Homo sapiens: one gene and its partners. The protein of the gene in region 1 purifies or fractionates together with the protein of each later gene. This does not show direct contact. Each region holds a gene or a part of one and is shown in the gene's direction. Other genes may lie near its edges. The genes, in order: SLC26A4, OMA1, TMEM164, SCCPDH, PIP4P2, ACBD3 and XPNPEP3.

Region 1 (2,741 bases):
TTTGGGGATGATCAGCAACTGGCAAGAGCCAACACACTGCTCCTGATTTGATACCTACACCTCTGCATACTGCTCTTCTAGAGATGTAAGGCCATGGGGTAGGAAAAAAATGAATAGAGGAAACTTCTAAGCTAGGAACTTTATAAGCCTCAGGAATAGTATGTGAGGAACAGAAACCCTATGACCTTCCTTCATATGACTGATAAAGGCTTTAAAAACACACTCTCCCCACCCTAGACTGATTCTGTGTATTTCAGATGCTCTTGTGACATCAGACTATTCCTAGGAAACTTGTCTGAACTTGTAGCATCTGAGTAAATTTTGCAGCTTCGCCACTGGATAAGAGGTGAACACTGAAGGAAGATCACAGAATTGTAAAAAGTTGAAAGATTTCTTAGAATCAAGTAGTCTAACATTCTAGCCCATGCAGAAATCCTTCCTACACCATCCTTGATGAATGTTCATTCAGCTTTTATGTGAACATTTCCAGACATTGGCCACTAGCGGCTTCTCAAGGGAGTTTGTTACATGGTTGGAAGTCTCTAAATGTTACTTGTGCTTACAGAACTCAATTTGGCCTTTCTGTAGTAACCACCTAGTGAACTGAGATCTGCCTTCCTTAGCAACACAGACCTTCCCACTGAACAGCCCTTCAAATATTTGAGAATAGTTCTCATGTCTCCAGCAGACTCTCTTCCAGTTGAGACTCTTCTAGTTCCTTCTATTCCTTACAAACAAGCAGTCAGTGCTTCTCTGGTCACGATGGGGACACAAAACCCTAAATGCGGCCAGGCCAGCATGGAGATTATTCAACCATGACCTACCTTGATCTCATCAAGATATTCCTATTACTACAGCTTAAAAATGTGTTTCCTTTCATAATAGCAACATCAGAATTTTAGCTTCTATTGAGCAGGGGCCAACTAAAGACTGGGGCATTTTCATACAAGCTATGGTCTAGTAGAGTTCCCTAGTTATATTTATTTAATTGAGCTTTGACCCTAATACAGAACTACACCTATTTCTGCTGGATTTCATCTTGTTGGTTCTTGTTTACTGACATAATTTTGTATTATTATTAGTATTATTATTATTATTATTATTTGTGACTGAGTCTTACTCTGTCACCTGGACTGGAGTGCAGTGGTACAATCTCAGCTCACTGCAATCCCTCCCTCCCAGGTTCAAGAGATTCTCACGTGTGCCTCAGCTTCCCAAGTAGTTGGGATTACAGGCGCTCGCCACCACGTCCAGATAATTTTTTTTTTTTGTATTCTTAGTAGAGACAGGGTTTTGCCATGTTGTCCAGGCTGGTCTTGAACTCCTGACCTCAAGTAATCCACCTGCCTTGCCCTCCCAGATTGCTGGGATTACAGGCATGAGCCACCACATTGGCCAGTTTTGTGTTTTGAATCTAACATCCAGGATATTGTCTACCCCAGTACCCGTTACCTGGTGTCATAATCAAATCTGATAAGCCTGCCTTCTCTGCCTTTTTCTAGGTCTTGAAAAAATGTTGCAAAGAAAACATTCAACCCCCTATAGTGAAATCAGGCAGTAAGGATGACAGGCAGAGATTTCTGTGGAGGAAATACATTGCTAGAGTGAAAATCACAGTACCTGCATCTTGGCCCACCAGCTTAGTGAGCCCAGGAAAGTCATTATCGACCTGAGAAGTCCTTTTAGCTCCAGTAGTTTATGACTCTATGGATATAGGGTGCCTTAGTTTGAGTAAAAACTCATATGTCAACATTAAAACTTAAGACTGCTATATTATAGGATATTTATTGGTTGCCACGTAAAATAATCATTCAGGGAGGGTTTCTATAGATGGTAAAACAATATAGCACAATAGTTTCAAGGGCATGGACTTTAGAACAAGACAGACCTGGGTGCTAGTCCTCATTCTGCTACTTACTGGCTGTGCACCCCAGGGCAAATTACTTATCCTGTCTTCATATTAGTATCTTCATGTAAAGTAGTAATAATACCACAGAGTTGTGAAAATTAAAGGATAAATGTAAAGTAACAAGAGCAGTGCCTTGTACATAGTAAGTGCTCAATAAATAGTAATCATTGCTCTTAAATAAATCCAATTAAAGTGTGATGAATACAGGCCAGGCTCAGTGACTCAAGCCTGTAATCCCAGCACTTTGGGAGGCTGAGGCAGGGGGATCACTTGAGGTCAGGAGTTTGAGACCAGCCTGACTAACATGGTAACCCCCCGACCATCTCTACTAAAAAAAAAAAAAAAAAAATTAGCTGGGTGTGGTGGCAGGCACCTGTAATCCCAGCTACTCGGGAGGCTGAGGCAGGAGAATTGCTTGAACCTGGGAGGCAGAGGTTGCAGTGAGCTGAGATCACGCCACAGCACTCCAGCCTGGGCAACAGTGAGTGAGATTCAGTCTCCAAAAAAAAAAAAAAGTATAATGAATACGAAATGAAGTTTTTACCCTATTTCTATTGTGATGATATACACCTAAGATGAGTAGCAGTAAGCAATCAATACTATAAAAACATATTTATAAAAAAGATAATGCAGACTTAAGGAGAATTCAGTTGTATCAACACTTTGTTTTCCCCTTGCTTCCACAGGCTATGCGTACACTTGCATCCTGAAAGTGGGTTCGGGAGGTCTCTATGAGCAAGGAATACAAGACAAAACTTCCTCAATGCATTGACTATTTCTTCAGACTCAAAACACTCATTCTTTTTTCTATTAAGCCATTGAAAGAGAAGCA
Region 2 (3,500 bases), on another chromosome or scaffold:
GGAACAATTCTAATGCCCAGTAACGGAGAAATACAAAGTAAATTACATGAGGGCAGGGACCATGACTATTCTGACCAATGTGTACCTAGCACCTTACTCACTGTGGTGTTCTAAATATTTGTTGTATTAAAAAGACTGAATAAGCGAATTTAAGGATAAGAGAAGAGTTTTTACTGAATACACAAAGATCTTAGGGGATGGCATCCTATTCCTCTCTTTGTTGCTTTGCATCTCTCATTGCCACACTCAGCTGTGCCAGTTGTTACCTGCTGGACTCCATACTCTCCCCCTTTACTGATGCCAGTGCAGTGCTTAAACATAGGCACTACACTGATATAGCAGCCATGACAGGTAAACTTCTCACTTGGGAAAGAAAATTAACATCATTGTAAAGGAACTAATGCAAGAGTGACCGTACGTCCCAATTTTGCAGAGACAGTCATGGCTCATGCCTGATGTCTCAGTGCAAATCTTGCTAGCATCTCATTTCATTCTCAAAGGTATCCCAGTTTGGACAGTAGGTCACCGTTTAGCTGAGGATCTGACTTTCTGTTTACTTAAGTGCTGTAAGTGCTATAGTTGGGAAACATTTTCTTGTTGTGTCAATTCAGTTTACTTAAACATTTACTTAACACTCACTAGATATAAGGAAATCTTAAATCTGCTGTGAAATACAAAGAAAAATAAGACAAGACCACTGCCACTGAAGAATTTCACGTTAAGTAATGTTTTTTCAACTCTCCAGCTTACCTTGGTAACTCAGAGCCTAATCAGAGCTAGAAGTGCTCCTAGACCCAAGCTTCTGCCCTGACCCCATTCACTTAGAGAACGTCTATCTGGCTCGCATCTGACTACAAGTCCCTCTCTCCTGTGGGACTCAATGAAATGTTAGCATACAAGAACCTGTGCCCCTACCATACCCCACTCAGGGTATCTGGAATAATGGAATTCCTTGCCCAGATATGTTTGAGCCTGCTTTCAGGGCCCATCTGGACCTCTTCCTTGAACACATTCACACAAGGCCCTTTACAGTGCCAGATAAGCTAGGGCTGGGAGAGGGGGCAGATGGCAGGCTAGTGGCAAGAGCTACACAGTAAGCTCCCTGCAATCTTACATGTTCTGAAATTCAAGAATTCTAGTTTTGTACCTGGACTTCCAGGTAATTTCGAATGTGTATTCTTCAAAGTAGGAGAATAGAACAGATTTTAAGTAGTAGTGTATTAGCTTGACTTACTGCTTTTAGGTGTTTAGAGACATGGTATCTGGGCCTCCATTTTCATTCTTTCCATGGACCCCACAAATATTAGAGGCAGGCTGTTTAGAGTAAAACTTAAAATCCTTAGCATGACCTGTGAGGTCCTACATAATCTGCTCCTGCCCTCCACCCTGCTCCACTCGGCTGTACCTGCTTCTTCACTGTTCCAAAACACCCCAGGCACGCTCCCATCTCCCTTGTACTCGCAGCTCCCTCTTGGAATGATTTTTCCCTAGGTTGCCACATGGTCTCTTTCCTCATGTCCTTCAGGTCTGTCCCCCTCTTGACCCCCAAAGTCATTATCCTATCAGTGAGGCCTTGCCTGGATAGTCTTTCTAAGATTTTACCAGTCCCTCAAACACTGTCTCCTTTACTGCCTTATTTACTTCCCTTAAGACACATCAGTATCAGAAAGCCAGAAGTCGTAAAAAACTGAATTAGCTTTTTCCCCTAAATGTCTTTCTTTTAAAACTCCTAAATATTAAGACCATTTATCCTTAAAAATTATTTTGGCTCTTATATCTTAAAATTATCCATATACCCACTTTGAAGAGTTAAATAGTTCTAAGGCTAGTTACTTAAATCAGCAGCCAGTCCCTCAACCCTGCCATCAGTTTCAGGGGTAACTATTTCCAATTCTATTGGACGATTCTTTTAGTATTTCCCATTGTGTCTAAATAACATGCTTATGTTGCTACATTCTAACTTCAATTTTGGGCCTTAATTATTTTCCACCTTACAGGATGAGACGTAAGCCCTCTCTTTCCAGTGTCACACCCTGTGCATGTGCACACACATGCAGCTCTCCCCTTCTCAGTATGATGAAATTGTACTTTTTGGTTTCATCAAGATTTGGTATTTTAAACTGTAAGCACTAGTCATAGCTGAGCCCCATAGTACACTGTGATTACTTTTCCTTCCTTTGCAATGTTTTATTTCTCCTGGAGTTAAAAATTGTCATGATTTTGATTTGTTTACTTTTCTAAGTATATTAGTCCATTCTCATGCTGCTAATGAAACATACCTGAGACTAGGTAATTTATGAAGGAAAGAGGTTTAATTGACTTACAGTTCCATATGGCTGAGGATGGCCTCACAATCATGGTGGAAGGCGAATGAGGAGAAAAGTCATGTCTTACATGGCGGCAGTCAAGAGAGCATATGCAGGGGGAACTGCCCTTTATAAAACCATCAGATCTCGTGAGACTTAATCACTATCATGAGAACAGCACGGGAAACACCCACCTCCATGATTCAGTTACCTCCCATGACATGTGGGAATTATGGGAACTGCAATTCAAGATGAGATTTGGGTGGAGACATATGCAAACCATATCACTAGGTTATTATCATCAATTTTACCCAAGACTGTATCAGTTATGTATATCTTTTTTCAGTATATTCAGTCATCTATGTTCTGCAGTTTTTCTTGAAAAAAATCTCTCATAGAGCCTTTTTAAATCTGAATGATTCTCCGGTCTGCTAGAGTTTAACTGAAACCATAGATGTATCTCTAAGATTTGTTTACCCTCAAAACAGCATTAGGGCAGTTGTTACAGATTATTAATACTATTGTTGTTGTTTTTAAAATAATACTATTTGACCAAATCATGAAAACAACTGTTCACTGTAGATTTTTCAGTGGTTCTCTTTTATGTGTTATAATCAAGATACCTTTTATTAAAAAAATAACAATACATTCTTTGTTTTACATGGAGCATATTAGGGATTACTGAAACAATCTGAATACATTGATGTATATATATAGTATTTTTTTATTTTATTATTTCTTTATAGGCTCTCAAAATTAGAGAGATGTGTAATTGTCCACCACTGTCTAATCCAGACCCTCGATTACTATTCAAACTCAGCACGAAGCATTTTCTTGAAGAATCAGAGAAAGAAGACCTAAATATCACGAAGAAACAGAAAATGGATACTCTTCCTATTCAAAAACAGGAGCAAATACCATTAACATACATAGTTGAGAAAAGAACGGGCAGTTGAATTAAAATTTATGAGACACAAGATATATGAAGAATGTTGCAGTCCTTATCATTTTATGTTACTTTTTAAAAAATGATGTTTGAAGTGAAAAAAAAAAGGATATTCAGGGTCAAATCATGTACATTACAGATATTATCTAAATTCTTCTAGAATTTATTTTTCATGAAATATTGATGTATTTTAATCTATGTTAAAATATCTTCAATGAGGAAAATGTCACAGAATAAATTTATATTAC
Region 3 (4,175 bases), on another chromosome or scaffold:
TGAGAGGGTTGGAGATCTATTGCAATGACAAATCCAAAGTGAAGAGGGTCAAGATATATACAGTACTAGGCCAGACCCTGTGTAAGTTCTGCCTGTGAGAGTTGAGAACTGATGCATATCCCAATCAGAAGTGAGCACAGAAAACTGTGATTTGAATCATACACTCTGTTTTAGGAAAATGTTGATAATAGATACCATTTTAATCTTGAGTGCCCCTTAAATGTGTTCCCTCTCCCTTTCCCTCTCCCCCCACCCCTCCCCCTCCCCCCTCCCTCCCTCTTTCCCTCTCTCAGGCAGCTTCAGGGAAGAATGAGCTGGAATTGGCTGGTTGGTTGGTTTTTGAGTTTGGAGAATCCTCGCATCAGGGCCCATTTCTGGAAGATTCTGTAGATCTGTTTCTTGGTTTTACAGGGCCAGTGTTGTTTCCCTAGGGCCAGATTTCTTCAGTGTATCCACACTCAGTGCTGAATTGTTTAATGTGGGGGACATCACGTCCTCCTCATCCTGTCTACCCCCAAATCCCATGTCTAGGTTGAAAGGGGGCTGCCAAAGAATTAAGTCCTCATGGGTGGAGGTTCAGGTGCTCCACAAGGAGGAGCTTTTGTTGAAGGACTTCAGCTCAGTTATGCACGGACCTCAAGCAGGCAGGAAGTGGCTGGGCATTGCTGACTCCACATTGACTCCCACTAGGAACAGATTTGCTTAAGAACAGAAAAGCTCATTTGGTGATTTTGTCTGATGAGCCTCCCTTCCCCTGTCCCACTCTAGGCAACACAGTTGACCTAGACCAGTTCCAGTATTTCCAGTTTGACCGTGTTTGACCTACACTGAGCTTCGGTGCCTCAGTGGTCATAATTTTAGCAAGTGGACCTATAGGAAGCAACCCTGGGAGGGACCGTCCTTCTGCAGAGGCCTGCGGGCATTGAGGCTATCAATCCCCAGGGCTTGGGGAGCAGGAGGGGAGGGCACCAAGTGCTCTTACTCTCCTGAGCTCCTTTTGATGCGTAAGCTTTGTTTTTGGCCCTCTTTGAAGGCAGGGCCAAACTTTTCTTAGTGCCTCTCACCTTAGGGTGGCCCTCCAGGGAAGGTGCTCCTTGAATGGCTGGATTGGCCCTGCCCACCGTCAAACTGCTACATGTAGGAATAGCTGATGAGGAAATACACAAGGCCTCAGTGCCCCTTGGCCTCTTTACAAAAGGAGAAGTTGGAAGGGGATTGTGGGAGGAGCCCCTGGGGGCCTGGTCTGTCCTCCACCAGAACTTGGAGTTGCTGCCAGCAGAGGATCTGTGCCTCAGCTGAAGACTAGCTCCGGAATGTCATAGGGGTGTGACTGTGTAGGCCTTCTCCTCCTCCTCGTTTCTGTGGCATGGCACAGGTTGCCTGGTTGCTCGAGCCTTCCCCATGTTGACATCCTCCACAAGCTTGCCTTTGCTCTGTCTACAGCTTAGTACCCCATTCTGGAGGGCACTTTCTGGTGCTTGGAAGGAGAGAAGAAAGCAAAAGCCACATGCCTGGCATGGCCAAGCCAGAGACAGATCCACCTGTCAGAGGAAGGAAGAAGTAAAGGGGGCATGCAGGGCTTTTGGGGGCCAGATTGGCTCAGAAACATGTAGGTCAAAAGAATAGAGGGGGCCCAGTCTATAGGCTTCACAAGGAGCCATGGCCTGTATTTGGGGCATTGGGGAGCATAAGGCATCTGAACTGGTCCAGATCTCACTCTTATCTTGGGCCAAGCCAACGTGGAGAGAAGCAACCCAACCAGACTCTTGGCAGCCTGCCTTACAGGGTAGCCCACCTTATAGGGTAGCCCTCATATCTGCCCTGTGCCGGCCCTCTACTGCCCCAGCTTTGGTACAGGAGTGAGGGAGAAGCTGGAGCTTGCACACCCAGTGGCCAGTGGGGCTGTCTTCCCAGCTCCTCCTCAGGGCTTTCCTGTCAGTGCCAAGCCAGTTCCCCAGCCAGGTTTCCGTGTGCCATTTGCCAGCGTGTGGGAGCTCTGCGCGTGTGTGAGGGTGTTTGTAGAAGAGGGCAGTTTCCTTTCAAATGGCCTTAGGAAGGGAAAAGAGTACTCCCTCCAGCCCCTAGGTAGCCTTGGCCAGGGATGTGGGCCAAGAACAGTCTGTGGAGCTGGCCAACTTGTGGCATCCACTCCAAATAGCAGAGACCCAGTCACGCCTGCTTCTGGTCCTCCCTGCCCTCAGTATTTGGTTTTGTACACCAAAGATGATCTGGCCCATCTTCCTCCCAGAGGCACAACAGTAACATGTTCCTCTGTCAGCCTGTGAAGGCATGCAGGGTTCTGAAGCCACAGACTCAGTCTCCCCAAGTCAGCAATCTCTTTCTCTCTCTCTCCTCAAACTTCATCGCATTCATAGAAGCTGCTTGCAGGGTCGCCGGGCTAACCAGGGTGATCGGCGAACTTTACCGTACAGTACCTCAGTCTAGCTGTCAGATCACCCCTTTTGCTGTAGCCTCTGTTGAGGTTTTTATATTTGTGATCATTGGTAATTCAGTGTCCTATGAAGTGGGCACAGCTCCCCACAGAGAGCAAGTTGTCAGCAGGTCTCTGTGCACTGGTATTGGGGCAGGGCAGTGCCCTGGGGGTAAGCTAGGTGGCTCAGGGAGTGGCAGAAGGGCCATTTTTCCCTCTGCCAAAAAGACTTCCTTGGATTTGTAGATGTTGACCCAGAGTCCTCTGTCCCCTCCTGAAGAGGATTTTCTTACTGGTTTCTACTGAAGGGGAGGTAGGGGAGGAGGAAAAAAGGACCATGTGTGATGCTGTTAGACAAGACACTGACGCTGATTATGGAGGGTCTCCTGCAGGCCCTTGTGGGCTCCTTGGCAAGGCCCCAGGCTGGGAAGGAGCTCCCCCCACTGCCCATCCTGCCCGCTTTGTGGCGGGTAGAGTCAGTGACAGGGAGGCAGCCCTCCTTTTGTGTATATAGAGTGAGCTGATTTGGGCTCAGGAAAACCTAGTCGCTTGTTGCTCTCGTCTGTGACATTTTTGTACACTGGTTTGCTACTCATGGCAAGAAACAGACAAAGCCCCATGAAAAATAAAACAAAACAAAAGTCATTTCAAACAAAGCTGTTGTTTTGAAAACTCTTGCTTTCTTTTGGTGTCCATTTTGTGTTCTATTTTAAAGAATCTTTCATTTATATTGGTGTTATTGTAGTGAAGAGAATGTGATAGGCTGATCTGTAATGGTTTCTGTCAGGAGCTTAGCAAATGCCTCTGCCCCTCTTCCCCTACCCCTGTCCTTCCTCAGTTCCCAGCTGGGATTGCTATGCACTGGGCAGACCCGTCACTGTCTCCCCTGAACCCCCACACAGTGGCTTCCCTTAGAACCAGTCTTTGTACTCTCCCTAAACAGCAGCAGGCTTAGGATTTTTGTCAGGCTGGTTCTTGCGTGCTCTGTGCCCCCACCAGTTTGCTCACCTCTTGGGGCATTTTGTAATGTGTTTTCTCTGTCTTGTAAAACCTTTTGATTGTACCGAAATGGTATCTGCAGTCGCCTTTGGAAATAAATGGTCATTAATTTGTGTACTTAGCATTCTGAATTTTAGTCTCAGGTGTTTCTGTTGTTGAAGATCCTTGAATGAAAAGGAACCCTCACCATGGGGCTTACTGTTATAATGTTTCTTCATTTACTGTTATTAAAAGATTTATGAGAACCCAGGAGTCCTGGCCTTGCTTCCCAGAACCCTCTCAGAAGGCCCTCTGCTTTGAAAAATAGACAAAAGGGGCCTCTGGCCCTCCGTACTGTGGAAGACCCTCAAAGGACAGCTGGGCTTTCTCAGCACACTTTTGTCCTGGGAGCTGCGTGGCTGGTTGCCCTTGAATTCCCACACATTGCCTACTTCTGCCAGGGACCCAGCAGGCCATTTGCTCTTAGCAGAGGGCTTGTCTGCCGGGCACGTTTGCTGGGCTCTCTGGTACCCAAAGTGCATTGGGCTAGGCTGGAGGACTGAGCTGGAGAAGGCAAACACATTCAGGCCCACTCAACCTAGATTTCCTGAGGGCCAGCTCTGCACCAGCACTTCTCAGCACAGGCCTGCACCCAGCATGGGTCGGACCATGAACAAGATAGCCTTACCCTTTGGAAGCAGACCTGCTTTTCCAAGGCTACCTGCTGAGCAGCCCATGATGACTGTGATTGGCCCTTTTTACACAG
Region 4 (3,500 bases), on another chromosome or scaffold:
CTCCCAAAGTGCTGGGATTACAGGCATGAGCCACCATGCCCTGCCACTGATTTGCTTATTCAGACATTTACCAGCCAAAGTTGTAATTGCAGGAAATGCAAAATATTCATAGGTCTGTCTTGCAGGTGGCCAATTTCTTATTGTCGGGAACTCAAAGGTTATTCCATTCCTTTTATGGGATCTGATGTGTCTGTTGTAAGGAGGACTCAACGTTACTTGTATGAAAATTTAGAGGAATCACCAGTAAGTATATATGGTTTATTTATCAATAAAGTGTGTGTTACAGTTCCTCTTTCTATTCAGTGTGGGATATTTTTGTTTATAAGGCAGAAAAAGGAAGAGCTAAGTAATACATGTTTCAGCCTCTGGAAATACACAGAATCATTAGGGTAGAACATTTTGTATTTTATAACCTTGTCTTTTGATTCAGATCTGGCTGCTGAATATCTTTTTAATGTAACACAATAGCAGCAAATTCAATACGGGAAATCCTGCTGTCATAAGCACCCCAGAATCCCTGTTTAGGGTTTCAGTTGCTAGAAACTCTTTTGCTTGTGGAAATGTCTGGAACCCTTTCTGTCCCCTCTCTCCTTGCCACGCCTGGAGTTCCATCCTGCTGCTTTTGGCGAGGAAAGTAATTGCTTTCATTGCCGAGACTTCAGGAGGAAATTATATTTCAAGTTAAAAGGTGGAGGGCATTTTCTTATAGGAGTCTACGTTCTGTAATGTATGATTGCTAAGCTCAGATATATTAGGGATTATGTAGATTTTTGTGCCCAAGTAGGGGAAGCTAATTACTATTTATAAACAATTTTCTTTAAAAAGTAGACTATCATACTTCCTGTTCACCAGGTCTGACAAAACAAACAAAAAATAGGCTCCCAATGTCTGGTTTCTGAACAAGATTTCAGAACATAATGCATTTGTAAAGTGGAAACTGCTTTTGTTCCACATTTGTGATGGAAGAGAAAGGTACAAGTAACTAACATTCTTACTTGGTCCAAAATGTAGGGAGTAATGTTCTAACTTTGTCTTCTCCATCATCTAGGTTCAGTATGCTGCGTATGTAACTGTGGGAGGCATCACCTCTGTTATTAAGCTGATGTTTGCAGGACTTTTCTTTTTGTTCTTTGTGAGGTTTGGAATTGGAAGGCAACTTCTCATAAAAGTAAGTAAGATTTTATGAAATTAGATTATTTTTATTAGAAGTATTTTCCATGAGTTTTAAAAAAATATCACTGACGGTTTTTTTTTCCCTTTAGTTCCCATGGTTCTTCTCCTTTGGCTATTTTTCAAAACAAGGCCCAACACAAAAACAGGTAATTTCTTTTGTATTAAGACACTAAAATAATATTTTTCTTTGTGCAATGACGGTATCATCTAACACTTGACAGGGCACTATGTTTCAGATACTCTTTTAAGTTCTTTATGTAAATTAGATTATTCAATCTTTTCAAACACCCCTTGAATGTAGGTATTATTATTATCTCCATTTTACACATCAGAGAACTGAGGCACACAGAGGCTAAGAAACTTGCCCAAGTTTCTCCAGGTAGTACATGGCCCAGCTGGGATGAGAACCCAGCCATTTAGCTCCAGAAATTGTGTTCTCTTCACTTCCAGAAATCTCAAATATTCTTCTTCCTCCATTTTTCTCCTCTGTTATCTTTTCCTTTGTGCCTCCTCTGCCCCCAGTTTCACTTCCTCTTCCACATACCCTGGATTCCGACGGGGGATCAAGTGAATTTCTGTGTGTCCAGCATCCCCAACAATAGGACTGCCTCATTTTCTACCGTTTGGCTTACAGATCCCAACCCTGGCTCAGGCCTTGGGTCATTAGCTTTCATCTCCTTGACACCAGGCACTCCTGGGGGAAATCCCACTGCTGAACAGATGGTAGCAGCAAGTTCCCGTTTCCCCCTCTGTGGAATGTTAGCATCACTTGCTGATTCTTTTCCTTTTCGTTAGTCTTGCCTCTTATCTCCTCTCAGTGGCTTTCTTCAAAATCTACCCAACTGCAGCTGTCTTCCCTATCTGTAAATTATCCCAACTCCTACCTCACTAAAATAATTGAGAGCACTGTTTTGTATCCCCTCAAATTCCTACTCTCAGACCTATCATCATTGTTCCCATCCTGACCTTCTTTCCTCCTCTCTGGATGATATACTCCCTGTACAAGGCTAATCCCCGCCTGTGCACTTAACGTAGCATCATTGTTCCATCCCGACCTTCTTTCCTCCTCTCTGGATGATATGTTCCCTGTACAAGGCTAATCCCCCGCCTGTGCACTTAATGTAGGCACTGTGCAGGAATGCGCCACCACGCCCGGATAATTTTTTTGTATTTTTAGTAGAGACACGGTTTCACCAAGTTGGGCAGGCTGGTCTTGAACTCCTGACCTCGTGATCCACCTGCCTCAGCCTCCCAAAGTGCTGGGATTACAGGCGTGAGCCACTGCGCCCGGCCTCTTTTTTCTTCTTATTGTGGTAAAATACACAAAACATAAAATGTACCATCTTAACCATTTAAAAATGCTGAGTGGTATTAAGTACATTCATCTTTTTGTGCAGCCATCACCACCATCCATGTCCAGAACACTTTTCATCTTGCACAACTGAAACTCTACACCCGTGAAACAATAACTCCTCATTTCCGCCCTCCCCCAGCCCCGGCAACCGCATTCCGCTTTCTGTCTCTATGAATTTGATGACTCCAAGTGCCTCATGTAAATGGAATCAGTCTTTGTCTTTTTGTGACTGGCTTATTTCACCTAGCGTAAGGTCTTCAAGGTTCATCCATATTGTAAGCATGTGTTCGAATTTCTTTAAGGGTGAATGATTGTCTGTTGCCTGTCTGGATCACATTTTGTGTATCCATTCATTCATCAGTGAACACATGTGTTGCCTCCAGCTTTTGGCTATTGCCAGTTATGCTGCTGCGAACATGGGTGTACAGATACCTCTTCAAGACTCTGCTTTAAATTCTTTTGGGCATATACTCAGAAATGGAATGCTAGACCGTATGTGAATTGTATATTTAACTTCTTGAGGAACCACTAAACTGTTCTGCAGAGCTGCTGCACCGTTTTACCTTCCCACAAGCAGTATACGAGAGTTCCAGTTTCTCTGCTTCCAAACCGACATCTGTTATTTTCTGTAATGGCCGTGAGGTGGTGTCTCATTGTATTTTTGATTTGCATTTACCTGATGATTATTAGTGTTGAACATCTTTTCATTTGCAATTATTGGCCATTTGTATGTCTTCTTTGGAGAAAATATTTTCAAATCATATATTTGACAGAAGATTCATATCCAGAAAATATAGAGAACTCCTAGAACTCAATAACAAAAAACAACCTAATTCAAAAATGAACAGAAGGACTTGAAAATATTTTCTGTTATTCTTTGGGTTGCCGTTTTACTTTGTGGATAGTGCAGGCTTCTGTCTCGTGGTTGGTAGTGCAGGCTTCCATCTCTTGCTTGAACTTTTCGTAGCATTCC
Region 5 (3,500 bases), on another chromosome or scaffold:
TGCAGTTTCTTTCTTCTGTTCCTGAGTCTTATCCTGCTAGACCTAGAATGGCCTGGCTACTCCTTTCCTTGCCCTTGTCTACCTAGAAAACACCTATTTAACCTAAAAAATTAGCTGAAACATCCCTTGCTTCTACTCTTCATCTGTAGAAACATTCTGTGGCACAAAGGTTATTCTGCTGCTTATTCCTTGAACAAATTTTCTTTTCACACCTGAACAATTCTAATGTAATCAGCTGAAATGACTTACTCCCCCATCTATTCACATTTTAAGCTATCCTTAAGTCTTGTGTAATAAAGCCATCCCTGGCTGCCTTGTCTGAAAATTGTAATGTAAAGAACATTGTTTGCCGCCTTTTCCCCTTATAAATTCCTGTAGCACTAGCTACACTACCATTTTCCAGGTGTTCTTCATAATCCTAGTGTTTCATAAGGTGTTTTTGTGAAGCGAAAGATTAATAATTTGAAGAGTGAATAGTTAGATGTTTGAGAGCATTGAATGGTCTTTTCAGCTTGGAGATTCACTGTCCACATTTTTGTATATGCCCTTGACTTTCACATGCAGTAATATAAAAAACCAATTAGCTGTAAAAATCATCCTTTTAAATGCATAGCTCAGCTCATATGACAGTTGGGGACCAAAAATGAAGATTAAGTGACAACCAGGACTATCCTGAAGGTATATGCCAACACTAGGGATCTACAGCCTTGGAAGAATGAGAGAGAAGGCATTGGCCTCACACAAGGTAGCGGGGTTAGAATACTGCCTCCTCCCAATAAAGTACTTAAAGTACTCTTCCCCTGGAAAAGAGTGAGTTAGGAAAAAGAAATCAACCAGAAAAGGAAGATTGCAGAGGAAAAAATTTATAAGAACAGTGAATTTAGGTTTATATTTTTATATCACTTATGCGATCTAGGAAAACCTAGTTCCAGAAACTGACTTAAAGTTTAGGGTTAGTATCAGTCTAGGGAGCCTGCGAAAAGCAAATGAAAGTTCTGTATGTAGGAAAGCACCCCCAAACTATGCATGCCAAAATTTTTTTATATTGAGATCTGCCAAAATAAGTTTTCAACAAAAGTTACTAGTCATAGGAGAAAACAAGATTCCAGAAGCATAATCAACATTGACAACAAACAGCATAATTAGACCTCTAAAAACTTCAGATTTATAATTATTAAATATGGAGTATGTTAAAACTATGCCTAAGATGTTTTAAAATAAAAATAAGAGAAAACATGTAAGACTATTTAAAAATTACCAGGTACTCACAGAAATGTATATGTGAGTGTTTGTAGCAAATTTGACACATGCAACAGCTTGGATGAATTGAATTTATGCTGAGTAAAAAAAAAAACTTAGCCATACAAGGTTACCTGCAGTAAGATTTCATTTATGTAACATTTTTCAAATGACAAAATTGTAGAAATAGGGAACAGATTAATGATGGTGTGGCAGGCACAGGGTGCGGGATGGGCAGAAAGGAGGGTGTGGTTATAAAAGGATCCTTACAGTGATAGACTGTTCTCTATTTTAGCTGTGGCAATAGATACATGAACCTAAACGTGATAAAATTGCATAAAATTAAAGAAAAATCCATACTCATATACCTGAGAAATCTGAATATTGGTGGATTATATGAATGTTAATATCCTGTTTATAATATTGTATTATAATTTGCAAGATTTACTATGGGGGAAATAGGGCAAAACGTACATGGTATTTTTATGTGTTATTTATTACAACTGCTTGTGAATCTATAATTGTCTCAAATAGAAATTTGCAAAAAATAACCAGATAGATATAGAAAGAAACAATAGAACTTCTAGAAATTATTACAGAAATTAAAATGCACGTACGGTTTAAAGAACAGATCAGCTAAAGGTGAAGACTAAAGTTGTGAATTGGAAGATAGAGGTAAGTGAATTACCCAGAATCTAGCATAGAGAGACAAAGATGAATGTAAGATTAAGAGAAAATATATTATTAAGATGCCAATTATATATCTGATCTGGAAGGAACAAATAAAGAATGGGATATGGCATTTTAGGAGATAATCTCAAATAATTTTCAGATCTATGAAAGATATGAATTTTTATATTCAAAAAGAACAATGAAATCCAAGCAGGATAAGTAAATGTGTTACAGTGAAATTGTAGAAAACCTAAGAGAAATAGAAGGTAATTAAAAGCAGAGAGACAAAAGGCATATTTTCAATAAGAAAAAGATAACAGTTCTGTCAGCAAATGTCTCAACAGCAAAAATAGAAGCCAGAAAACAAGTTTTAAAATACATCAAAAATACTAAGAGAAATTAACTGTCAAACTGGTATTATACACCTATCTAAACCATCAAAGAATAATGAAGGTAAAATAAGTATATTTTCAAAAGCAAAACCAACAAACTTACAAACAAAACCCAGGGTATCTACCATCCTGGTACCCTTACTAAAAAAAAAAAAAACTGCTAAATGATGAACTAGGGAATATGAACAAATATTCCAGAAGAAATTTCTGCAGTGCAGGAAGGAAAGGTAAACCAAGAAATTGTAACAATTCACCAGAAACACTGACTGTATAAAATAGCCAAAACGACAGTACCAATTATATTAATGCTAATAAGTTTTGAGAAACAAAAATACAATAAAACTGAAATATTGGAAAACAGTAGCATTAAGATGCTAGTGGAATGTTTGGTGTTAAAACTTTCTAAAATCTTTATATTTATCAGGAAGATGGATTTAATAATTGACTTTAGTTTTTAAAACATATGAAAGTTAAAATTTTAAGTGCAACTGCCAAATGAATGAAATAAATTGTAAAACTTTCAGAATAATAAGAGGAAAATGAAATGAAAGAGTCATGGTCAATATAAAAGAAGTCTGGAAATAAAGGTAGAAAAGCAGAAAATACAGGAATAGTAGAAAGCCAAAATAAGGTGTCAGAAATAGTCCATGTATATCATTAGACTAATCTTGCTAGTAAAACTTAACAGTAATGGTAAGACTAGATGTAAGAACAGCTATATACAATTTGAGGAAGGAACACATGAATATTAGAACATAGAATGAATGTATAAGGATAGAAAAAGATACAACCATAAATCACTAACCAAAGGAAAAGACATACCAGGCAAACACTAGCCAACATTAAAATGTAATGTTAATATCAATTAAAATAACAGAGACTGCTGTTTTCTCCTTCCTTTTATTAGTAGACCTCTGAATTTGACTAGCCACTCAGCTAGAGATGGATTTCCTAGCCTGTCTTGCAGATAGTGTGGCCATCTTTAAGTTAGGACCAATGGAATGTGAACAAAAGTGATGAGTACAGTTTTCTGATACTCTCCTTAAAGACAAAATTGCCTGTCTTCGTTTTTTCTCTCCTCTTTGAATTGAGTGGAAAAGCCAACTGGCAGGAATGTTGTTACCTGTGTAGAGTTTGGCAATACCAATCAGGGAGTACAGCTGACTACCAACCCTAGGCTGTACATTTACCTTTAAG
Region 6 (3,500 bases), on another chromosome or scaffold:
TTTCATTGTGATCATAATTTTTCCCTGAAGTTTTAATTTATTGACTTTTTGGGGTCAATTATGTTAGAATAAATTGTCCATATTTGATTTTTTTATTGCTTTGGGGGCCCATACCAGATTTTGCCAATTATAGCTTCTGCCTTTGTGAATTTTCTTCTGTGACTATTCCCACCAAGTTTAATTTTTCTAATTCAAATTTTGTGTATTTAAAGTTTATCAAGATTTTTTTCTTCCATCAATTTCAAGAGCACATTACTGTGTTCAATTTTTGCCTTTAATAGTTTTATTTTGGGTTGATTATTTCTACTTTTTTTTTTTTTTTTTGAGATGGAGTTTCGCTTTTGTTGCTCAGGCTGGAATGCAATGGCACGATCTCAGGTCACTGCAACCTCCGCCTCCCGAGTTCAAGCGATTCTCCTGCCTCAGCCTCCCAAGTAGCTGGGATTACAGGCGTGTGCTGCCATGCCCAGCTAATTTTGTATTTTTAGTAGAGACGGGGTTTCACCATGTTGGTCAGGCTGGTCTTGAGCTCCTGACCTCAAATGATCCACCCACCTCCGCCTCTCAAAGTGCTGGGATTACAGGTGTGAGCCACTTTGGCTGGCCTTACTTTCATTTTTCCTGGTTAGTTTTTATGGTGATTCTCAGATCACAGAAATGTGAGCCTTAGTTGCAGGTTTTTGTCCACATTAATTTTTATTGATTTTTTATTATTTTTAGCTGTCAGTTTGATATTGTACTAATAATATTCATTATAGACAGGATAAAAACTGATAAAAATTTATTAGTAATTTCTTGAGCATAGCACTTTGGTAGGGCAAAAGCATGGTATCAGATGTACTCCAGGGCAGATGTCTTATTTGCTAGCCTTCCTGGTCAGTGTGTCTTCACTTTCTCTTGGTTTGTAGGCAGCATTACAGAAACAACAGGAAGTAGTAGTGGCTGGGTCTTCCTTGCCTACATCATCAAAAGTGAATGCAACTGTACCAAGTAATATGATGTCAGTTAATGGACAGGCCAAAACACACACTGACAGCTCCGAAAAAGAACTGGAACCAGAAGCTGCAGAAGAAGCCCTGGAGAATGGACCAAAAGGTAGGTTTTGCATATGTGTTTGTCCAGATGTCATAATTCCAAATCTGTGAAAGGCAAAAGTCATGAAGTCAGGTTATAATTAGCTTTTGAGAACAATTACATATTTGTGAGAGTTGAACATTTTTTTACTCTTTTTAGTCTGAATCTAATGCTCTGGTGACTCATAGACCAGTGTAGAAGAGCAAATCAGATGTCTTTGGACACTTTTAAGACAAAAGTTATGTTTTGTCATATATATATATATAAATTATCTATTGCTGCATAACAAATTACAGGCTGGGCGCAGTGGCTCATACCTGTAATCCCAGCACTCTGGGAGGCTGAGGCAGGAAGATCACTTGAGCCCAAGAGTTTGAGGCTGCAGTGAACTATGATTCCGCCTGCCTGGGTGACAAAGCAAGACTGTCTCTCAAAAAAAAAACAAACAAAAATTAATTACACCTAAATTTAGTAGCTTGAAATAACAATAAACATTTATTACTATCTTGTACAGCTTCAGTGGGTCAGGGTTTCAGGAGCAGTTTAGCTGAATGGCTCTGACTTAGGCTCCCTCATGAGATTGCAGTCAAGATGTTGATGCCAGGACTAGAAGATCTGCTTCCAAAATGGTTCCCTCACATGGCTGGCTTTTGGCTGGAAGCTCAATTCCTGGCCCCATGAAGCCTCTCCATAGGGCTTCTTGAGGGTCCTCAAAACAGTTACTGGCTTCCCCTAGCAGAAGTGGCAGTGTCTTTTATGCCTTGACTTTGGAACTCCCACCATATTCTGTTGGTCACACATACCAATCCTTATATATTGTGGGTGGTGACCTCACAAGTGCATGAAGACCCAGAGGTGAGAATCTCTGGGGACCATCTTGGAGGCTGGCTACCATAGAAATAGATATATTTTTGAGACTAATGTATCATGTTGCCTAGAAAATAACTGCATTTTCAAAGCTCTACTAGCTTTCCATGGGCAGCTCATTTGTTCATTCAGCAATTAGTTGAAGGTTTCCTGAGTGCTAGGAGTACAGTGGTGAGGCAAAATAACACACAGAAAATGTAGATTGTAGCTGTGATAAGTACGGTGATGGAGAGAGAGGTACATTATCTTTGAGAGAATGTAAAACAGGGAAGTGTGACCTAGTCAGAGAGGCCACCAGAGGCTTCCCAGAGGAAGGGACAATTGACCTGAGATATCTGAAGCAAGAGGAGTTAACTAAGTAAGGAGGAAGAGGAGAGCATTTCAGTGACAGTGGTCAGGGATGGTGGTATGGTTCATAAGAAATTTGGTTTCAGAGATCTTCCTTGTCTGTTTAGAACAAGTAATAATTGCTTCAGAAAAGGCTTTGAAATCCCTTGGTTTACTGCCCCCTTCCCTTTTTTTTTCTTATCAAGGGATTATACTAGCATCTTCAAATGAGAGAAAATATTTCAAAGGCTCTGTGACTAACTTTGAAAAACTTATTGCATAGTCAAGTGCACATAGGTACTGCTCAGTAACAAGACTTTACCCCTTTTTCTCAGTCCCTAGTGGTTCTAATCCTGTCCGAGTTTTTGTTTCTTTGAGCTCCTTTAGAATAGCCCCTAGAACTTTGGGATAGTTGGAGGTGAAGAATTTTTCAACAGACAGGCTGAAGTCAAAGTCCAGCTTTCTTTGTTCACATCCACAAGAGTAATTTATTCCTAAAGCCAGAATCTCTCTTCCTTGCTAGAATATTTCCCTCACTCCAGCTGGGGCCTTCCCAAGGTCATTCTTGAATCCCCATAGAGGGAGTGTTGAAAAAAATTCGTTTCTAAAATTGTGGGCTGCCATTGTTACTTGAAGAAGTACGATGACCTCTGAGTGCCTGCAACATTGTTAAACATAGTAATCTGGAGAGACTCCCATGGGGAGGCTTTTTTATTCCTCCAAGTCCTTGATCTAAGCTAGACCATATTGTACTTGGTGCCTGAGTACAACTGATCAGGTAGTGCTATGAAAATGTGGCTACCTGCAGGGTGAAGGCTCTTTTTCTTTAGCTTTTTAATACCTATTGCCTTTAGAATCTCTTCCAGTAATAGCAGCTCCATCCATGTGGACACGACCTCAGATCAAAGACTTCAAAGAGAAGATTCAGCAGGATGCAGATTCCGTGATTACAGTGGGCCGAGGAGAAGTGGTCACTGTTCGAGTACCCACCCATGAAGAAGGATCATATCTCTTTTGGGAATTTGCCACAGACAATTATGACATTGGGTTTGGGGTGTATTTTGAATGGACAGACTCTCCAAACACTGCTGTCAGCGTGCATGTCAGTGAGTCCAGCGATGACGACGAGGAGGAAGAAGGTAGAACCCTTGGTCCATATTCAGTAGCTGCTGGGTTGTGTGTTGGCAGAAATGGTACATAGTTCAGGTGTCACCCAGCCTTATGCTTCCTGA
Region 7 (3,500 bases), on another chromosome or scaffold:
TGAAAGGTTTAAAAACCTTTAAAAAAGTGAGCTATGATTTCATACACTTTGAACGTGTAGTAGAGATTGTTTTACTTTTTAAAAATTACAACAATTGGCCGGGTGCAGTGGCTCACGCCTGTAATCCCAGCACTTCGGGAGGCCAAGGGAGGTGGATTGCCTGAGATCAGGAGTTCGAGACCAGTCTGGACAACATGGTGAAACCCCGTCTCTACTAAAAATACGAAAAAATTAGCTGGACGTGGTGGCATGCGCCTGTAATCCCAGCTACTTGGGAGGTTGAGGCAGGGGAATTGCTTGAACCAGGGAGGTGGAGGTTGCAGTGAGCCGAGATCGCGCCACTGCACTCCAGCCTGGGTGACAGAGCAAGACTACGTCTCAAAAAAAAAAAAAATTACACGACAATTAAATTTCCATCTATCGTAAGTAGGAAGGTGTTTCCCATGTAGTATATATTTAGAACCATTTTTATTTTAAAAATGAAAATATGTAGGACATAGAATCACATAGGACATAGAATCATAGAATCAGTGCATATCCAATCAAAGTTTTCTGGATTTTTTCCCCTCTACTTTCCCCAAAGTACTTTTTAGTCATATAAAATATTCAGACCTTCTCACTTGGATTGTTAGGAATACTGTTTGTAGCCTACTGTTAGAAAAAAAGAACAAATGTAGATCTGATATTAAGTGCAAATCATTTTTATAATGAGCCTTTATATCGTATATCTTAGGCAAATACAGACCATTTCCTTAGGTCTCTAAAGTTGAAAGCTGAACTGTGATTGTTTACAAAGAGAATGTATAGCAGATGCAAAGGGAGAAGTGAGGAAATATCAACTGTAGTTTTTCCATAGCAATGAATAATTGCTCCAGAATGGGAGGAGAACCCTTTCCTCTAGTACTGAGATCATTATGTGAAAGGATGGGACACTTTACCCATAAAGTCATGATCTGAGTATGTTTTTCTGTCCTTCTGTGTGCAATTATTCAACAAGTGCCTCTAGCTCAGTAAGTGGTGGTGAAGAACAGTTGTTCTAATTGTTTAATAATGAAGGCCGGGCATGGTGATTCACGCCTGTAATCTCAGCACTTTGGGAGACTGAGGCGGGTGGATCACAAGTCAGGAGTTCGAGACCAGCCTGACCAATATGGTGAAACCTCATCTCTACTGAAAATACAAAAATTAGCTGGGCATGGTGGCGGGCACCTGTAGTCCCAGCTACTTGGGAGGCTGAGGCAGAAGAATCGTTTGAACCTGGGAGGCGGAGGTTGCAGTGAGCTGAGATTGTGCCACTGCACTCCAGCCTGGGCAACAGAGCAAGACTCCATCTCAAAAATAAAGAGAGAGAGAAAGAGAGAAAATCAAAGCTTGACTAAAGCTTTAGTCCCGTATCATCCTTTATAAAGAACACTGAAGTTTAGGGGCAGAAAAGCTGTATATTCAGTCTTAGAATATCTTGCCATTTCCAGGGAATGACCTTTCTAATGATTTATAATCAAACCTTTATTGCTTCAGTCCTGAGAGAGTCTTAAGTCTCAACACTTTAGAGTTCCACGTTACAGGTTTTATAGTTTTGACTCTTGTTCAAGTCGTTATGACAGTTGATATTTCTTGTTGCTGGTAGTTTTGTTTTAAATTTATTTTTCGGCTTCTCATTCTAAGCTGAGACGAACATGGTTTGGTATGACTGGATGAGGCCCTCACATGCACAGCTTCACTCTGACTATATGCAGCCCCTGACTGAGGCCAAAGCCAAGAGCAAGAACAAGGTTCGGGGTGTTCAGCAGCTGATACAGCGCCTCCGGCTGATCAAGTCTCCTGCAGAAATTGAACGAATGCAGATTGCTGGGAAGCTGACATCACAGGTATGATTCCTATTGAAAAGTTTTTTCCAGCCGGGCGCGGTGGCTCACGCCTGTAATCCAAGCACTTTGGGAGGCCGAGGCAGGTGGATCATGAGGTCAGGAGATCGAGACCATCCTGGCTAACATGGTGAAACCCCGTCTCTACTAAAAAAACATAAAAAATTAGCCGGGCATGGTGGCGGGCTCCTGTAGTCCCAGCTACTCGGTAGGCTGAGGCAGGAGAATGGTGTGAACCCGGGAGGCAGAGCTTGCAGTGAGCCGAGATCGGGCCACTGCACTCCAGCCTGGGCGACAGAGCGAGACTCCATCTCAAAAAAAAAAAAAAAAACAAGAAAAAAAGAAAAAGTTTTTTCCAGATTGGAAAAATCGTAAGCTCTTGAGGTCGTATACCCAATGCAGCAGTCTCCTCACCGCAGAATGGCATCTAGCTTCTGCTCCAGTGTGTAGTGAACATACCTAGAGACTTGCTTAATACCTTGCAAGACAAAGTAAATCTGCCTTCTGTTAAGATGGTTCTTTTACCCATCAATCTTAATTATTTCTCCTTAGAACGACAGAAATTAATACTGTTTCTTTTCCTTATAGTTACACTAATAGTGTCAGTTAAACAGTTTGGTTCTAAGAAAGACTCAGGACCCAAAGTGACAATGCTTACAGATCTGCAGTTTATTATAGGAAAAGGGTAAAAAATAACCATAATATGAAAGTAAGGATATATATCACAGCCAATGGCTGTCTCAAAGCAAGGAGTCTAGAGAAGCCAGGTGCAGGCTTCTCTGGTCCTCCCTAGGTGAGGGCCAGGCAGGATGTATCTTTCTCTTACAGATTAGGAATCACCAGTGTTGTCATACTCTGCTCAGGCTGCCATTACAAAATATCACAGTCTGCATGGCTTAAACAAGAGAAATGTATTGTCTCATAATTTTGCAGTCTGGAAGTCCGAGATCAAGGTGCCATCATGGTCCATTTCTGGTGAGGGCTCTCCCGGCTTACAGAAGGCGGCTTTCTTGCTGTGTCCTTACATGACAGTGAAAGAGGGCCTTTTTACAAGGCCATGGTCCTATCAAATTAGAGCCCCACCCTTAATTACCTAATTTAACCTTAACTACCTCCTAAAGACATAGAGATTAGAGCTTTAACACATTAATTCTGCGGGAAACACAATTCAGTCCATGGCACATGCAACAGACTACCTCAGAATCAGAGACTCCAAAATGGAATCTCAGCTAGGGATTTTTGTTTTTTTGGTCACATAATCATATTCCTGCTACGTAACAGTAAAGCCCCCCGAGAGTTTTCACAGAGACCAAGTGTAAACCATAAATCTCACTGGCAAACTGATAGAAACTATCCCAAAACTCCCTATTTCATTTATTCTCTCCAAGGTGTTGGCCATTGACTTAATTTAAAAAAATCTTTTTACTGTGGTGAAATGTGCATAACATAAAATATATCATTTTAACCGTTTTTAAGTATGCAAATCAATGACATTAAGTACATTCACATTGTTGTGCCCACTTTTTCCCGACTTTCTCCATCATTCCAAATAGAAACTGTACAGATAAATAATAACTTCCCATTCTCCCCTCCTCCAGCCCCCAGTAACCTCTACTTTCTCTGTGAATCTACCTA

Evidence for each region.
Region 2: the proteins of SLC26A4 (region 1) and OMA1 purify together in Homo sapiens (affinity purification with mass spectrometry; one large-scale study listed by BioGRID and IntAct). This does not show direct contact.
Region 3: the proteins of SLC26A4 (region 1) and TMEM164 purify together in Homo sapiens (affinity purification with mass spectrometry; one large-scale study listed by BioGRID and IntAct). This does not show direct contact.
Region 4: the proteins of SLC26A4 (region 1) and SCCPDH purify together in Homo sapiens (affinity purification with mass spectrometry; one large-scale study listed by BioGRID and IntAct). This does not show direct contact.
Region 5: the proteins of SLC26A4 (region 1) and PIP4P2 purify together in Homo sapiens (affinity purification with mass spectrometry; one large-scale study listed by BioGRID and IntAct). This does not show direct contact.
Region 6: the proteins of SLC26A4 (region 1) and ACBD3 purify together in Homo sapiens (affinity purification with mass spectrometry; one large-scale study listed by BioGRID and IntAct). This does not show direct contact.
Region 7: the proteins of SLC26A4 (region 1) and XPNPEP3 purify together in Homo sapiens (affinity purification with mass spectrometry; one large-scale study listed by BioGRID and IntAct). This does not show direct contact.

Annotation. Positions count from the first base shown.
Region 1 is NC_000007.14:107,712,828-107,715,568, forward strand, and holds part of SLC26A4 (pendrin), read left to right. Parts: intron 1-2,595; coding exon 2,596-2,619; 3' UTR 2,620-2,741. UniProt on the Homo sapiens protein: Sodium-independent transporter of chloride and iodide. Mediates electroneutral chloride-bicarbonate, chloride-iodide and chloride-formate exchange with 1:1 stoichiometry. Mediates electroneutral iodide-bicarbonate exchange.
Region 2 is NC_000001.11:58,480,727-58,484,226, reverse strand, and holds part of OMA1 (metalloendopeptidase OMA1, mitochondrial precursor), read left to right. Parts: intron 1-3,052; coding exon 3,053-3,262; 3' UTR 3,263-3,500. UniProt on the Homo sapiens protein: Metalloprotease that is part of the quality control system in the inner membrane of mitochondria. Activated in response to various mitochondrial stress, leading to the proteolytic cleavage of target proteins, such as OPA1, UQCC3 and DELE1.
Region 3 is NC_000023.11:110,174,114-110,178,288, forward strand, and holds the end of TMEM164 (transmembrane protein 164), read left to right. Parts: 3' UTR 1-1,659; coding exon of another isoform or gene 1,660-1,704; 3' UTR 1,705-1,802; coding exon of another isoform or gene 1,803-2,285; 3' UTR 2,286-3,675; downstream 3,676-4,175. Other genes in the region: uncharacterized protein LOC124905230, read left to right, coding at 1,660-1,704, 1,803-2,285.
Region 4 is NC_000001.11:246,758,909-246,762,408, forward strand, and holds part of SCCPDH (saccharopine dehydrogenase-like oxidoreductase), read left to right. Parts: intron 1-125; coding exon 126-243; intron 244-1,048; coding exon 1,049-1,168; intron 1,169-1,262; coding exon 1,263-1,319; intron 1,320-3,500.
Region 5 is NC_000008.11:90,999,360-91,002,859, reverse strand, and holds part of PIP4P2 (type 2 phosphatidylinositol 4,5-bisphosphate 4-phosphatase), read left to right. Parts: intron 1-3,500. UniProt on the Homo sapiens protein: Catalyzes the hydrolysis of phosphatidylinositol-4,5-bisphosphate (PtdIns-4,5-P2) to phosphatidylinositol-4-phosphate (PtdIns-4-P).
Region 6 is NC_000001.11:226,152,242-226,155,741, reverse strand, and holds part of ACBD3 (Golgi resident protein GCP60), read left to right. Parts: intron 1-764; exon of another isoform or gene 765-908; coding exon 909-1,095; exon of another isoform or gene 1,096-1,139; intron 1,140-3,122; coding exon 3,123-3,407; intron 3,408-3,500. UniProt on the Homo sapiens protein: Involved in the maintenance of Golgi structure by interacting with giantin, affecting protein transport between the endoplasmic reticulum and Golgi. Involved in hormone-induced steroid biosynthesis in testicular Leydig cells.
Region 7 is NC_000022.11:40,884,648-40,888,147, forward strand, and holds part of XPNPEP3 (xaa-Pro aminopeptidase 3), read left to right. Parts: intron 1-1,665; coding exon 1,666-1,868; intron 1,869-3,500. UniProt on the Homo sapiens protein: Catalyzes the removal of a penultimate prolyl residue from the N-termini of peptides, such as Leu-Pro-Ala. Also shows low activity towards peptides with Ala or Ser at the P1 position.